Regions from separate parts of the Homo sapiens genome. Here all the other regions are linked to region 3. Evidence: fine-mapped expression QTL. A gene starts in region 3. Each other region holds a variant in brackets. All regions are shown on one strand. Distances are from middle to middle.

Region 1 (2,762 bases), 28 kb after region 3:
CCTGTACCCAGCGAGGTGAAACTTGCAAATGATACTGTCACCTTCCTCAATGGACTGCAGCTCAGGAGCTCACCAAAGGTTGCAGCAGACAACCCCCACGGTGTTTGGAGACAAAGGAATAGCAGCTGCCTGGTTTCCTTGAATCACCCCGTGCTCTGACGATGGCAGTGATGGGCCTCCCACCAATGGCTTCCCCAAGTGCTGTTTTCCTGCTTCATGCCAAGTTAAGCATTCTGATACTAAGCGGCACGAGATAGTTCTCAACTGGGTGAGGCACAGGTGTGAGTAATCTCGAGGTATGGTCAGGAGGTTTGAAAAAACTAACCCAGCTGCAAGGAAAAGACCTCTGGTCTTTATTGGAAACACGAATTTGACCTGTCCAAGCTGGGAGCTAATAGGCCCCAGCAGCTCAGGATCCCCTCCTCACTTACGCTTGGGTTTTGAGTGATACCATATTTTTCTGAACACATTTTCCAAATGCCTATTTGCCAAAGCCGTGGTGTAATTTGCCTAAGCAGCAAACTTGTCCTTAGAGTCGAGGTCCATCCACATCAGGAGAGTATATTCAATGTTTATCTCCGATCAATGTGTGATGAATTGCATATGAGATAGATTTGTGTGAGCCAATGTGTGTGTGTGGATCTGTGTTAGTTACATGTGTTTATTTGCATGTATGTAAATATGACTGTGTGAGTGCATGGATCTATTCCTGCATGATATATATTTATATATATGAATATGTGCATATATATGCAAATATGGGTATAAATATGTATCTGAACATATAGGTGTGTATCTGTAGTGGACACTGTCAATGCACTCATCCTCCAGTTACTTAGGCATCCCAGCTTCTCAGCTCAATGGGGGCCGCTTGCCCATCCCCCCACCTCCCAGGGCAGCCCAGAATTCACCTACCAGGGTTCAAAGGCTGGCTCCCTTGACTCAAGGTCAAACTATCTGGGTGGTGCAATTCATGCTCCAGTTGAAACCAACCCTTGCCCAACTCTTTTCTTGCCCTCTTCTTTTTCTCTTACTCCCTTTCCCTCGGAGCCCACTCTCAGTATATCCTATGCGTCCAAATCCCCATCTCAGGCTCTGCTCCAAGCAACCTGGCCTAAGACAGCACTATTCTATACATGCATGTGTGTGTACATGCAAACATACAACTGCACACATTTGTGTGTGTGTGTGCCCATATACAAGGAAATCCGGGAAGATCTGGGAGAGAATGATCTTCCAAAGAAGATAATGGAGAAAGAGTATGGATTTTATAATGTAGAAGTTAGAGTCATCTCAGATATAGAGTGGGACTGCTTTGAAGTTGAAAATTAAAAGATACTTTAGAAGTAAATGTATTTTTTATTAAATCAGAAAAAGAAAGATAC[A/G]GTTTACATGACTGTCAGTCAATCATATGCTACTTTGAATTACATTTTAATAGACTCAGGGTCCTATTTACTCCTTTGTACAGGTATTAAAAACAACTCAGGTATTTGAGAAGTCTTCTGTAAATTTTTATTAACTGAGGTTATGGGGAGGGTTTTATCAGAGCACATCCTGAGAACATTAGGAATGACAGACACACTTGAGATAAGTGTCAGACGGAACAGATGAAGCGAGCCCCTCAGCCATCTGAGAAACATTAATAATGTAAGATAGCAGAGACCAAATCTTTGTTAGGGATACAGTATTACAGGATAAAAATGGGGACCTTGCCGCCCCCTTGTGTTGCAAAATAACCGTGCAACTTCCTTTATTTTTTATTTATTTTTTTTTTTTAAGTTGTAATCTTTGCCGTTGTCACTGAGCCTCAAAAGCAATTGTTTTCCCAAATCATTTTAAGCCCTCCCCAGTCAATCTTTTCCCTCTCATCAATAACTTACAAGGACCCTATTTGAAAAACAACGCTTATTCATTCCTTTTTCTATACCCCACACATTCCGTTCTAGGAAATTGGCAACCACCCAACACAGCCCGGGTTCTCCCTCCTTGAGATGTGAATTTAAACAAATGGATTTTCGTCTCCCTTCTTCAAGCTTAGAGGATAAGCACGCATTTACTACAACGCTTAATTCCTTCTAGCAGCATTTCTCTTCTATAACTTACTTGCCACTGCCTTTTTTTTTTTTTGATAGAATCTTGCTCTGTCGCCCAGGGTGGAGTGCAATGGTGCAACTTCGGCTCACTGCAACCTCCACCTCCTGGGTACAAGCGGTTCTCGTGCGTTGGGCTCCCGAGTAGCTGGGACTACAGGTGTGTGCCACCATGCCTGGCTAATTTTTGTATTTTTAGTAGAGACGGGGTTTCATGATGTTGGCCAGGCTAGTCTTGAACTCCTGACCTCAGGTGATCCACCTGCCTCGGCCTCCCAAAGTGCTGAGATTACAGGCGAGAGCCACCACGCCCGGCCACCACTGCCATTTTCATCACTTAACCCGAACACATTCCTCTATTCCCTCCCTTTCCTGCTTGGTGATCATCGACTCTTCTGACCCAACTAGGTGACCTGCTAAACCATCTTTACTGTTATTTGCCAGAAAAGACTGGACCAGAGACGTAAATAATACACCTCAATATACAACAGCTCGGGCTTAATTTCTAGGCAGAATTTCATTTGCTGGCCATCAGAAGAATATATACATGGAGCGTGTTTGGGGAGGAGATGGAGTAAGGAGAACACATCTTGGTGGCAGGAGAACCTGGTGGGAACCGTGCTGATTTGTTTACTTGGATTTGCCAACTGGTCCGATGGATACTGGGTCTGT
Region 2 (2,762 bases), 21 kb after region 3:
TTTTTAGTCTTAGGGCTGGGGCATAATTTCCTGTTTTTGTATTCTCAAAACTGTTAAGCTACTTGTGAACAACTGGCCAGCAAAGATAGGGAGGGGGCAGGGGATGCGGAGAGAGGGTTGTGAGCCCAGAGGGGAGGAGAAAGGCTGTTTCTCCTCAGTTCTCACAGAACCTCTATGAAAATAGAAAGATTTATTTATTTATTTACTTTAAAGACTGTGAAGTAGAGACAAGGGGTAGATTCTAGACATTGAAGTTGGAGGTGTGAGTGGTAAAGAGGAGAAGAAACATGTTTTAGCAGGAACTTGAATAAGCTGATTGAAACTCAAAGAACAGTCTGTTTCCATAAGCATGAACATTTCTTAGACACTCATTTTGTGCTTTGCATGGAATACATCGTTAAATCCCCACAGCAACTCAGTGAGGTGGATTCTACTAGTGTCTCCACTTTATGGATGTGAAAGTGAAGCTGGAAGAAGTTAAGGAACCTGCTCAAAGCCACGTGGCTAGCAAGTAGCACCACTGGGATTGCAACCAAGGCTGTTTGGACCCAGAGCCTGTGTTCATAGCTACTGCTCTCTTCTGAAGATAAAGGAGGAGACAAGGATGTCAGCATGACCATAGCATACATGTTCATTTATTTAGAGCCAGGGAAGGGGGTGGGACACTAATCAAGGTTGCCCCTTCCCTTCACTTCCCTTCCCTTCCCTTCCCTTCCCTTCCCTCCCCTCCCTTCTCCTCCCCTCCCCTCCCCTTCCCTTCCCTTTTTTCTCCTCTTAAAGCCACCAACTGTGCTAGGTATTTGTATGTTTACTCTCAGATCATTTTTCCAAGCTTCTCTTCAAACTGCATTTCCCAGGTTCCATTACCAACTGGCTTCTGGTTAAGTTCAGCCAGTGGGCGGCACTGACACGTATTTTTCCTGCCTCCTCCCTCCAGTCAACAAAAAGGTACTGCTTGCAGAAGCCTCCATTGGGTTCCAGCTACCCTCAAGCAGCCTCACCCCCATCCACATGGGGTTCTATTTCCCACAGGGTGCCGGGTTCCCTAGCTCCAGAAGCATCACCTCTTCCCTTTGGCTGTGTGTCTCTAGTGGTGGTTCTTTTTGTAGCCTATTTCTATTTCTTTCTTTCTTTTTTTTTTTAAATTATACTTTAAGTTTTAGGGTACATGTGCACAATGTGCAGGTTAGTTACATA[G/T]GTATACATGTGCCATGTTCTATTTCTAATCTCCGGGTGGGCCTCACGGCCCCATGGTTGTCTTTTCAACTCTTCCAGTACCTTTAAAACTAGCACCCATATTAATGTCCTTCTATTCAGCTCCTTGTCATGGGATAGAGGTTCCCGAGAAAACCCTAAGACACAGATCACAGATTTTTCTTTTTTTTTTTTGGAACAAAGTCTCGCTCTTGTCCCCCAGGCTGGAGTGCGATGGTGTGATCTCGGTTCATGGCAACCTCTGCCTCCCGGGTTCAAGGGATTCTCCTGCCTCAGCCCCCCGAGTAGCTGGGATTACAGGCGTCTGCCACCACACCCGGCTAATTTTTGTATTTTTAGTAGAGATGGGATTCTCCTTCCTCAGCCCCCCGAGTAGCTGGGATTACAGGCGTCTGCCACCACACCCGGCTAATTTTTGTATTTTTAGTAGAGATGGGGTTTTACCATGTTGGCCAGGCTGGTCTAGAACTCCTGACCTCAGGTGATCCACCCGTCTTGGCCTCCCAAAGTGCTGGGATTACAGGCGTGAGCCACCGCGCCTGGCCGACACAGAGGTTTTTAACCTAAGACACAGACCCTGAGACAAAAACTTAGGTGCAAGTAGTTTATTTGGGAAGTGATCCCAGGAAGCACAAAAGGTGGGGTGGGGGGGCGTGCTCATGAGTATGTTACTGCTGTGGGTGACGGGTGGCTCGGTCTTGCTGAGGACCCTTGAGAGAACACAAAGACGACCCCTCAACATTGTCCCACTGAGAGATGGGGCAGCTGAGGTGTTTACCTTTCCTCTCCCATCTTTCACTGATTGAGAATTGTCCTTCGGGGCATAAAATTTCAGGTATTTTCAAAATGCCATGCAGGTGGGCTAAACAAGCTCCTACAGCCCCTGGAGAAAGCCACCGAGAGGAAAAGCAAAGAACGAGGAGTTTTGGGGTGGGAAGCTGTCAGTGCTGCAGGTAAACTCGGGTAGTCTGAAGACGATGGGGCAGGGCAGCCACAGCACCTACTGCCATGGCGACTTGGCCACCGTTATAAGTAGATGCAACTGTACAACCAAGGATAGCCAAGGGTGGACCTGAGCCCCCTCTCCAGAAATTCTGCCTTACTTTAGAATGGGGTGAACAGCAGGGAAAATGAACATTTTTCTTTGCTTTTTCTCCTCCCTCCTTTCTTTTTTCTAGATAAGCCAGCCAGCCAACTGCTTATGAGGATAAGGAGAAACTGGGGCAAAGTTTAAGGATGTCGCAAAGTCTGGGTGGCCTTCAGTCCATGAAAGAGAACACATCTGTTCTATCTCAGGCTGAGGTCATCTGCATCCTCATCAATAAGCTGACTGAGCACTCATTACCTGCCAGACACGGTGCCTACATGCTCTAAATGCACGGTCTCGTTTATTCTCAGCAACTTTCCGAGGTAAGTGCTGTTAGCATTCCCATTCCACAGAGGAACAAACTAAGGCTCTGAGAAGAAGTAATTTGCTCAAGACCTCACAGCCTGGGATCATGGGTATGAATCATCTGGGTGAATGATGAGGCCAAATCCCAAGTCCA
Region 3 (2,762 bases):
CTGACTCTGAACTTCTCCAGGCCTGGTGTTATGTTTTCTGTAGCGTGACCTTATAACTAACCATCCCATCGAAGACGCTTGGGGGAGTGAAAGGAGGGGCTATTAATACTTCTGCAAAAACTGGCGCTGCCCTGAGCACACTGGGATGCCTGGTGGTGGTGGTGGTTAGGTGTAGATTTCTCCCCATTCCTTAGTGCCTCACAAGGGTGCTGTAAAACGTTTGTCGAGTGTGTTTTATCAACAGTCTCAGAAGGGGTGGTAAAAAAAAATACTCGTTTGTTTCATACAGAGAGAAATTGCATTACAAAGTGATGACTTACAAAATCACCGAAAGGAAATCAATGGTGAGGTGGAGCCAAACCTCTGCTGTAGAATTTCTGGATTCAGATAACACAGAGCTCTCTCCATCAAGCATTTGTGTGCAGAAGCTAAGCTCCAGGCCCAGGGAGAGAGCTTGAAGCAAAGACATAATAAAACAGTAACAGCTGCTACCGAAGCTGTGTCATGCAACTTTGCTTAGCCCTTTACTGTATGGTCTCATTTATTCCTTAAGGAAGGTGAGATTATAATAGAAAAGGAAAATGAATGTGCCGCAGTCACACAAATCACTCACTACTACACTGCCACCAGAGCCCAACAGAGTAGCCACAATTGTTTTCTTCCTAAAAGGTGCAATGGAGTAATACTGCACAATTTCCATTTAGATGTCCCTTCAACACGTTTCCTGGGAATCTTAGAGCAGTTAACACCCATTTAGAAAGGAGCTTTTTCATTTCGTAAATATGTTCAGTGCACCAAAACAGGCAAACAAGATAACCCGAACTCTTAACTTGCCTCAGCACCTCACCCCTTAAGATACATAGAAACAAATCAGAAATTATGCTCAATAAGGAATTTGCAAGGCTGAGGAGGGGGAGCTGGAGTCAAATCAGCTGGGTCTTCCGCCCCCTTCAGTAGGAGGGGGAAGATTACTGCAGAGAATGTAACAAGGAGAATAAGAGAGAGGGAGGGAGGGGGAAGAGAGAGAGAGAGGGAGGGGGGTGGAGAAAGAGAGAGACAGAGAAGGAAAGGAAGAAAGAAAAAGAGAGAGAATAACTGTTGGTAACGGACAGCCCAAGAAAATTGTAGAAAAGTCCATCTCTGGTACCTACCTGGTGCCACCTTCCCCCCACCCCCGCGTTGTTTATTTATTTATTTATTTTTTCTAGCCACCACCATTTTGTTGCCTGGCAGAGGTGTGAGATGCAAGGCTGTTTACAAAGCCCCCAGCAAGAGCAATCCCATCATCAGGAGGTTTGCTTCCCCCCCGGGCCAGCCCTCTCGCTCTCCATGCCCGTCTTGGCTGCATGCGTTGTACCTAACACATTTAACCCGCGTTTCTTAAGAGTTCTGCAAAATGGTGTCTGCTGGTGTTTGCAAGGGAAGCTCCCGCTGGGCGTCCCGAGCTGGGTGGGAGCTGAGTGTGCGGTTCCCTAACGAGCTGGCGGCCGGCCTGAGCGGCTCTGATCTCCAATTCTGACGGCTTGTCCTTCAGGTGACCTATATTATCTGGCACCTCAGTTGCTGCTCACAAAGAAAAAGTATCACTGGAAGAAAGAAAAAAAAAATCCCAAGTGATTGTGTACATGCTCTTTATTGAGAATATTAAACTCAGACGCCCTCTGCTGGGCAAGACGGGAAGGGGAGGCTGGGAGTAGGGGAGGGTGGCCGGGAGGGCTCAGGAGAAGCCGGGGACGGCCTCCTTCCTGTGAGATCTGTGGGCATGATTCAGGGCAAAGGGCGCCCATCAGAGCTGCTTTAGGCAAAGGGAAATACAAAACAAAAGTGAAACCGCTGACAAGGAAATCATTTAATTGGGGAGAAATGACAACTTCTTCACTTGGATTTTTTTTTTTCCTGTTCCTAAAATTGTTGCTTTTGATAGGTGAGAGGGAATGGGGTGGGGGAGACTGCTGGACACTGCCAACTTATTCATCAAGACAAAGGGTTTGGGTTTCAGGGAAGTCCTAGCAAAGAGTGTGGCTCAGCGGGTAGAAGGGTAGCTGAAATACCAGGACATTTTTGAGAGTGAAACAGAGTGCTATGGATGATGATGCGGACACAGCAGGTATAGTCCAGAGTGTCCCAGGCAAATCTGACTACCTAGTCCAGCACTGCACAGAGAGCTTTCTAGGATGATATGAATGTTTTGCATCTGTCCTGTCCTATCTATCTATCTATTTATTTATTTATTTTTGAGACAGAGCCTTTCTCTGTTGCCCAGGCTGGAGTGCAGTGGCACGATCTCGGCTCACGGCAACCTCCAACTCTTAAGTTCAAGCGATTCTCGTACCCCAACCTCCCGAGTAGCTGGGATTACAGGCACCCGCCACCATGGCTGGCTAATTTTTGTATTTTTAGTAGAGACAGGGTTTCGCCGTGTTGGCCAGGATGGTCTCAAACTCCTGACCTCAGGTGATCCACCTGCCTCAGCCTCCCAAAGTGCCGGGATTACAGGCGCGAGCCACTGCGCCCGGACTGTCCTGTCCTATATGGTAACCACCACCCACATGTGGCTACTGGGCTCTTGAAATGCAGCTACGCAACTGTGAGGGGATGAATTCTTAACTTCATTTAATTTTTGTTATTCTGAATTTACATTTAAATAGTCACGTATGTCTAGTGGCTATCAGACGGTAGAGCTCTGGTCTTACTATTCACAGGAACACACCGTGACCCCCATTGACAGCAGCTAAGACCCCAGGAACAGGCTTGTTGCGAGA

Evidence for each region. PIP is the estimated chance that this variant, and not a neighbour inherited with it, causes the effect.
Region 1: its variant is fine-mapped to the expression of BCAS1-AS1 in whole blood (INTERVAL, PIP above 0.99). The same link has a PIP of 0.9 or more in spinal cord.
Region 2: its variant is fine-mapped to the expression of BCAS1-AS1 in whole blood (INTERVAL, PIP 0.99).

Annotation. Positions count from the first base shown.
Region 1 is chr20:53,942,202-53,944,963 of GRCh38, forward strand. BCAS1 (brain enriched myelin associated protein 1) reads right to left here. Exons shown (of 13, transcript NM_001366298.2): 13 at 1,340-2,762. The coding sequence ends at 2,721. It overlaps BCAS1-AS1 (BCAS1 antisense RNA 1), which reads left to right. Exons shown (of 5, transcript NR_199019.1): 5 at 1-1,380. Among named protein-coding and RNA genes, the nearest start is that of BCAS1-AS1, 28 kb to the left of the region's middle. The variant A/G (reference allele first, on the strand shown) is at 1,386.
Region 2 is chr20:53,934,970-53,937,731 of GRCh38, forward strand. BCAS1-AS1 (BCAS1 antisense RNA 1) reads left to right here. Exons shown (of 5, transcript NR_199019.1): 2 at 2,394-2,625. Among named protein-coding and RNA genes, the nearest start is that of BCAS1-AS1, 21 kb to the left of the region's middle. RefSeq lists an enhancer at 43-544. The variant G/T (reference allele first, on the strand shown) is at 1,198.
Region 3 is chr20:53,914,274-53,917,035 of GRCh38, forward strand. BCAS1-AS1 (BCAS1 antisense RNA 1) reads left to right here and starts at 1,216. Exons shown (of 5, transcript NR_199019.1): 1 at 1,216-1,293.